Linked DNA regions of Homo sapiens. The protein of the gene in region 2 purifies or fractionates together with the protein of the main gene of each other region. This does not show direct contact. Each region holds a gene or a part of one and is shown on either strand. Other genes may lie near its edges.

What was found. The genes of interacting proteins can lie anywhere in the genome.
Region 1: the proteins of HARS1 (region 2) and PFDN1 fractionate together in Homo sapiens (co-fractionation; one large-scale study listed by BioGRID). This does not show direct contact.

The regions. Positions count from the first base shown.
Region 1 is NC_000005.10:140,278,676-140,282,658, reverse strand, and holds part of PFDN1 (prefoldin subunit 1), read left to right. Parts: intron 1-1,125; coding exon 1,126-1,210; intron 1,211-3,983. UniProt on the Homo sapiens protein: Binds specifically to cytosolic chaperonin (c-CPN) and transfers target proteins to it. Binds to nascent polypeptide chain and promotes folding in an environment in which there are many competing pathways for nonnative proteins.
Region 2 is NC_000005.10:140,677,805-140,681,787, reverse strand, and holds part of HARS1 (histidine--tRNA ligase, cytoplasmic), read left to right. Parts: intron 1-1,904; coding exon 1,905-2,000; intron 2,001-2,660; coding exon 2,661-2,786; intron 2,787-3,772; coding exon 3,773-3,880; intron 3,881-3,983. UniProt on the Homo sapiens protein: Catalyzes the ATP-dependent ligation of histidine to the 3'-end of its cognate tRNA, via the formation of an aminoacyl-adenylate intermediate (His-AMP). Plays a role in axon guidance.

The DNA.
Region 1 (3,983 bases), 400 kb from region 2:
TATTTCCACCCTCATCAGTGGTAAATAATGTGCCTGATGTAAAATGGAAAAAGTTGAAAATTTCCACTTGTACATTTTGAGCTTTTCAGAGGTACTATATACACTCTGGAAATAATAATAAAAGATACTAAGGCTTATACAGTGCTTTTTGTTTGAGGAACTCATATAAACACTAATGCATTGATCCTAACACAGTGCTTGATTGTGACTTTAAAAGGTCATGAGTTACTGCTGTTACAAAAAAAAAAAAAAAATGGAGGGGCGCTCCACTTTACAAATATAGTTTAAAAAATATCTAGATAAAAATTGAAACAGATAACTGAAAAAACAAAACTTATAGGGTATTTGTTTGTATGTTGACTTTTCTCTTAGCGTATGATATATTTTTATTCCTTTATTATTTTTTCTTTTACATATGAATCTACTTGAAGCCTGATTTTCTTTTCTTTTTTTTTTTTTTTTTAATGTTTTTAAGACAGGATCTTGCTCTGTTACCCAAGCTGGAGTGCAGTAGCACAATCATGGCTCACTACAGCTTTGATATCTCAGTCTCAATTGATCCTCCCACCTCAGCCTCCCTAGTAGCTGGGACTACAGGCGTGTGCCACTGTGCCTGACTAATATTTTAAATTTATTTTTTGTAGAGATGGGTCTCATCATGTTGCCTGGGCTAGTCTTGAACTCCCAGGCTCAAGCAGTCCTCCTGCCTCGGCCTCTCAGAGTGCTGGGATTACAGGTGTGAGCCACTGTGCCCAACTCCCGCAACCCCCCCGCTTTTTTTTTTAATGAGACAGGGTCTTGCTATGTTGCCCAGACTAGACTCAGACACCTGGGCTCAAACAATCCTCCCACCTCAGCCTCCTGAGTATCTGGGACTGTAGGCCCACACCACTGTTCCCTGCCTGATTCCTATATTAAATAAGAAAGCAGAATCTACTTTTAAGCCTTTATTCCTTCTCAGCCAAGAAGGTTTAAACTTCTGGTGGTTTCCTGAGCTTGACGTATTATGTTAATATGCATTTGTCCTTTTAATTTGCTCAGTTTAATATTTGTAGTATGTAGCTATTGATTTCGATGAATTCAATAGTCATGTGGCTTAATTTTCAACTTTCTTGTGTTTCATAGGTTTATTCTTCAGTCCAAGGAAGCAATTCACAGTCAGCTGTTAGAGAAGCAGAAAATAGCAGAAGAAAAAATTAAAGAACTAGAAGTAAGTTTTTATTGGCAATAGGAGTTAACTTTTGGGAGAAAGTAGTAATCTTATTGTGTCATATTAAATGAAAATGTATGCCTGCCTGCCAAAGTAATGTCATATTATTTTTATTTTCTATAATTACGTTGGAGCCGTGAAGCTGTCATATTCATATTCATAGCGCATATAAGACCAAAACAAAAAAAAAAGAATAGTCTCTTCTTTGGAACTGCAGAGAATTTTGATGAGATGGTTTTAACCTGAATGTATTTTGTTCATTGCCCTTGAATGTGTTTATTCTTTAAAAAAAACAAAACCATAAACAAAATGTAATGTATATTTAAACAACACTTGTGTAGTGGATTGTGGTGGATGGGCAGGAGAGTGGGTAATAATGATAAATTTTAGAGGATCTTGGTATAGGGTCTTTTTTACACATTGTAATTTCTTTAACCTAAATTAGGTTCTATATAAGGACAAAGTAGCAAGCTATAACCAATTAACTATCTGAAGGATGGTGCTCCAATGAGAACAATTTTTTCTTTTTAGCTAGGGAAAAAGATGATAGGTAACAGTAAGCAAATCTTTGGAAATATTACTTTATTATTTTTATTATTATAATTTATTTATACATTAAGACCTTTAGTGAGATATTCTTCTTGGGCTTTGGTGAAAGGCCCATCCTGTGTATAGTAAAAGTTAGACTGGACAAAAAGCTGGTTATTTCTTAGGGACCAAGATTTCCCAACATGTGGGTGGATACATTGACTTCATAGGTCATTTCATCTAATTTCTGTAAGTACTATTTGAGGCAGAGGATCAGAATCTAACTCAGCCCTCTGCTGAATTTGGGAGCTACAACTTGTAGCCTCCTGAGGATTTCTTAGGGGCACTGAATTGGCCTGGCCTGGGAGTATGCAGTATCTTAGGTTACTTAGGCTTATTTTTAACTACTGATAGTTGAAACAAACTTGATAATAGATTTGCAGCTTAGAAAAGTGTATTGTAAAAACAAGACAAAAAAGCAAAAAAACCAAGTAAAGAAAAAACAGCCTGTGATAACCAGATTGTTGTTGTGTCCTATTTTAACATTTTAATCAGCTCAACTGTTCTAAGAGGTTCAGTTTGATATCTGTGTTTTCACTCATAAGAAACAAAAGTATCTTTAAAAACCCAAACAGAATCATTTCATGTAGATAAAACAAAATGCATTTTTGCAACTGTAGGTAAATATATTTAAAATTATCCTAATGAATAATAAGTAGCAAGGTAATATGTATATAATTCTCTTTATGAAAACAAAAAACAAACATTTGTGTATGAATATTGAAGATGATATGTAAGGATATATATTAAATTGTTAATACTGTTTACCCTAAAGAAATTAGATGGGACGTAGGGATAAATGATTTTTTCTTTTTCTTTCTTTCTTTTCTTTTCTTTTCTTTTTTTGTTTTTTTTTTTTTTTTTTGAGACGGAGTTTCGCTCTTGTTGCCCAGGCTGAAGTGCAATGGTGTGATCTCGGCTCACTGCTACCTCCGCCTCCTGGCTTCAAGCGATTCTCCTGTCTCAGCTTCCCAAGTAGCTGGGATTACAGGCATGCGCCACCACGCCCTGCTAATTTTGTGTTTTTAGTAGAGATGGGATTTCTCCTTGTTGGTCAGGCTGGTCTCGAACTCCCGACCTCAGATGATCTGCCTGCCTCGGCCTCCCAAGTGCTGGGAATCATAGGCCACTGCGCCTGGCCTTGATTTTTTTCTTACAATCTCTGTAATAATAAATTATAACAAGTATACATTAACTTTTTTTGTTGTTAACTTTCATGATTAAAAAATTAGCAGAGTGGGCACAGTGGCAAATGCTTGTAGTCCCAGCTACGGGAGGCTGAAGCGGGAGGATTGCCTGAGGCATTCCAGCCTGCGCAACATAACAAGACCTTGTCTCTTTAGGGAAAAAAAAAAACACAAAAACCCCAATTATCAAGGTGAAATTGCCACAGGTGATGATTTTATCAATACCGTACTGCTGAGTTCTGGTGAATATTAAGAAATTTACTTTCTGCAAGTTTCCTTTTGTTGAGTGTCTCAAATACTGGTAGAATGTTTTATCTTTTAGGAAGTTCTTTTTTCTTTTTTAATTTTTCATTTTACATGTTACTTACATTATAAAAGCAATAGAAGTACACCATAAATAAAATATAAAACAAATGATTAAACAATGAAAATATTACTTTGTTTTTCCACCCTCGGTACATCCAAATGTCACCTCTACGGTTTCTGTATCATTCCAAACTTCTATATTTATATCAAGACATTCATACATGCATATATATACACAACCTTTTTTTAAAATAGGAATTATGCTATATATACTGTTTTCCATCATTTGACAGTTTATCTTGCTACTTTAGTAATATAACTCCAGTTTATATACAATTTCTTTTTTTGATTCCCATCATCATGGGCTCCTTACCATGAGCCTTATTTCAGCATTTAATATGTTCTCCAGTACTTCCCTAATCTGTGCTTTTAACAGTATCACCCAGTGTATACTCCCCTCTCTTCTCTGAAACAATCCTATACTTTTCCACTGCTACAACTTTATGGTTTTATTACTTCAGCACACCCCCACATGTGCACTTATGCACATATACACTGTTAATTGTGATGTTCAAATTTTGTGTGTATCTTACTGAATTATCATCTGCTTATTCATTTAGTTACTGAGAGATGTGATGAATCTTCCTCTATGACAGTGTTTATCAATTTCTCCTTAATCTGTCAGTTTAGTG
Region 2 (3,983 bases):
AAGTTGACATAACATGTTGGCAGGCCTAGTTCTTTCTGAAGGCCATAAGGAAGGATCTGTTCCAGGCCTCTCTCCATGGCTTGTAGATGGCCATCATCTCCCTTTGTTTTTTTTTTAATTGAGACAGAGTCTCGCTCTGTTGCCTGGGCTGGAGTGCAGTGGCACCATCTCATCTCACTGCAACTCCACCTCCCAGGTTCAAGCGATTCTCCTGCCTCAGTCTCCTAAGTAGCTGGGATTACAACACGTGTGCCACCACACCTGGCTAATTTTTCTATTTTTAGTAGAGACGAGGTTTCACCATGTTGACCAGGTTGGTGGTCTTGAATTCCTGGCCTCCAGTGATTCGCCCACCCCAGCCTCCCAAAGTGCTGGAATTACAGGCATGAGCCACCGCGCCCAGCCTCCCTTTGTCTTTACATCGTCTTCCCTCTGTCCCTATCTAAATTTTCTCTTCTTACAACAACATATTGGATCAGAGCCCAACTTGGAGACCTCATGTTAGCTTAATCATCTCTTTAAAGACCCTATCACCAAATGTAGACATGTTCAGAGGTTACTGGGAGTTAGGACTTAAACAAATGAATTGGGGAGGGTGGGGCCAGGGGGACACAGTTCAGCCCGTAACACTAGTGTGTTACTGTTTCTGATACTGCATACTGGGAAGTTTCAGGCTTTTTAATCTTTGCCAACCTGGTAAGTGAAATATGCTATTACCGATGATAGACATCACAGGGCAAGGACTGCTGTAATGCCCTTAAGACATTCCCCAGTTTTTACTTTTGACATTATTCGAATCTCAGGCATCAAAAAACATTTATGTTTATTGGTCTGATAACCTATTCCTAGTAGTTTATCATCAAGAAAAATACTTTTTTTTAAAAAAAAAAAGAGCTATATACCTAAATATTAGATATTGAAATGTTATGGGGAATTTTTTTTTTTTTGAGACAGAGTTTCACTCTCGTCACCCAGGCTGGAGTGCAATGGTGCGATCTCTGCTCACTGCACCCTCTGCCTCCCGGGTTCAAGCGATTCTCCTGCCTAAGCCTCCGAATAGCTGGGATTAGATGCCTACCAGCTCCCCCAGCTAATTTTGTATTTTTAGTAGAGACAGGGTTTCACCATGTTGGCCAGGCTGGTCACGAACTCCTGACCTCAGGTGATCCATCCGCCTTGGCCTCCCAAAGTGCTGGGATTACAGGCGTGAGCCGCTATGCCTGGCCTAAAAAAATTTTTTTTTAAATTAGAATAACCTAAACACCTAACAGTATAACATGAGGGAGGAAGTAAGTACAGAGCTTCTTCTCACTGGAATTTATGCATCTTTTAAAAACACTTCAGGCCGGGCGCTGTGGCTCGCACTTGTAATCCCAGTACTTTGGGAGGCTGAAGCGGGCAGATCACGAGGTCAAGAGATCGAGACTATCCTGGCCAACATGGTGAAACCCTGTCTCTACTAAAAATACAAAACTTAGCCGGGCATGGTGGCACCCGCCTGTAGTCGCAGCCACTCTGGAGGCTGAGGCAGGAGAATCTCTTGAACCCCGGAGTCAGAGGTTGCAGTGAGCCGAGATCACGCCACTGCACTCCAGCCTGGTGACAGAGCGAGACTCCATTTCAAAAAAAAAAAACAAACTTCATGCTGAGAAGTCTGAAGAAAAAAAAGATTTTTAAGAGGAAAATGTGTAAGAAAAATACTTCAGCTCTGTTACAAAATCAAAATAGAAAAAAACACAAAATTGGTGTTTCCTTTTAATGATAACTACATCAGACACCTAAGAATTGGGATAAAGAGCAGAGGGAAATGTAGACAAGTTGGAATCAGTCATGTTTGTTTTCAAAACTTCCTTTTAAATTGTTATGTTTATTATTATGACCACATTTATTTATGTTTTCTCCAGGAAACACTGATGGGAAAGTATGGGGAAGACTCCAAGCTTATCTATGACCTGAAGGACCAGGGCGGGGAGCTCCTGTCCCTTCGCTATGACCTCACTGTATCTTTCTAAACTTGGGCTCTTGAGACTTTGGATGGATTGGCACTCACTTGGCTCAGGTTTAAGAATGGTAGAGTAGGTAGGATCAAATATGAGGCCTTTGGCGATTAGGGGAATTATTTCTCTAAACCAGGAGTGGAACTTTGGCTAAACAGAGCATACACATCCTTAGAAATCTTCTGAATCCTGAGTGAGACCTCAGCTTGATGTCAGGGCCCAGTTCCAACTCTACAGTCATCCCCTGGCTCCAGAATACCTCTCCCCTGCCCTGTCCAGTGAACAAAATTCTTCTTAATGGACTAGCAACACATTTCCCTTGTCTCCAAGCTACACAGAGAATCATCTGCTTAGAAATCCCATATGGGGGCCTTTTTCTGGTCGCCTTTTTCTGGTCTGTGGCCAACCTGCCCAGCCCCTTGCCATGCTCAAAAAAGTCCAGTCAACACTACAAAAGGGAAAGGTGCCTTAATCTTTTTTGAGCCTTCAGCTACCTCATGTGGTAGCACAGCTGATGCTTTCTGATGTTTGTAAGTGCTATTAATCTTATGGGTGGCAGTTTTACCCACATAGGGAGGGGTTAGACCCCAGCTTCTGTTGGTGATGATAATCAACTTGCAGACAGTGATAGGAGGGGCTTTCTCCTTAACTCTTTGTCATCAGGTTCCTTTTGCTCGGTATTTGGCAATGAATAAACTGACCAACATTAAACGCTACCACATAGCAAAGGTATATCGGCGGGATAACCCAGCCATGACCCGTGGCCGATACCGGGAATTCTACCAGTGTGTGAGTGTTGGGAAACCGTGGGGCAGGATGAGTTACTTGGGGCTCTCTCAAGCCAGCAGAATCTATTGAGTACTCACGGTGTCCTGAGCAAATTGGATGACCCAGATAATGCTCTTAGGGTTTCTATGGTGGTTTTTTTGTTTGTTTTTTGTTTTTTTGAGACGGAGTCTCGCTCTGTTGCCCAAGCTGGAGTGCAGTGGTGCAGTCTTGGCTCACTGCAACCTCTGCCTCCTGGGTTCAAACGATTCTTCTGCCTCAGCCACCTGAGTAGCTGGGATTACAGGCGCCTGCCACTATGCCCGGCTAATTTTTTGTATTTTTAGTAGAGACGGGGTTTTACCATGTTGGCCAGGCTGGTCTCGAACTCCTGGTCTCATGATCCGCCTGCCTCGGCCTCCCAAAGTGCTGGGATTACAGGCGTGAGCCACCGCACCCAGCCTCTTCTATGGTGTTTTCATGCAGATTTCACAAAATCCCTGTGGTGGGGGAGGAGAATAAAGTCTCTTCATTTTACATATGAGTAAACTTGATACCCAGCCCATGAAGAGATCATAGGGATAAGAAAGGCAAAGTCAGGACTAGAACTCTTGGTCCAGTGCTCTTTATTTTAAACCACAGTGATAGGATCACAGCAGAGAATAAGGAAATTAGCTTTGATACATCAAATCATCCAGACTGATGCCAGGGCTTCTGGATGAATAGGGAAAATGGCTAAGCACTAAAGCCATATAATCACCCCATCCAGTAGGAGGAGTTAAGAAGATGATGAAGTAGAAAATGAAGGAATAGCCCAGTAGATGGAAAGGAAACCAAAACTGGTGAGAAGCCCAAAGATGCCGGGGTTTACCTCTGGGCTGATGATCAGAAAATGAAAGAGAAATTCTATGCTTGAGTGCAACCAGGCCTTCCTAGAGGACAGAGCTCCCAGAGTCCCCCCTTCAGAAAGGTGAATCCCTGAAGACCGCTGGCTAACCCTCTCCCTGCAGGATTTTGACATTGCTGGGAACTTTGATCCCATGATCCCTGATGCAGAGTGCCTGAAGATCATGTGCGAGATCCTGAGTTCACTTCAGATAGGCGACTTCCTGGTCAAGGTCAGAGCTGACAAGGCTGGGAGGGCAAAGTTGGGCCTGGCCTCTCACAAGAGAAGATCCTTGTGCAGAGGGACCAGTAGCCTAAGTGACCATGACTATTGCA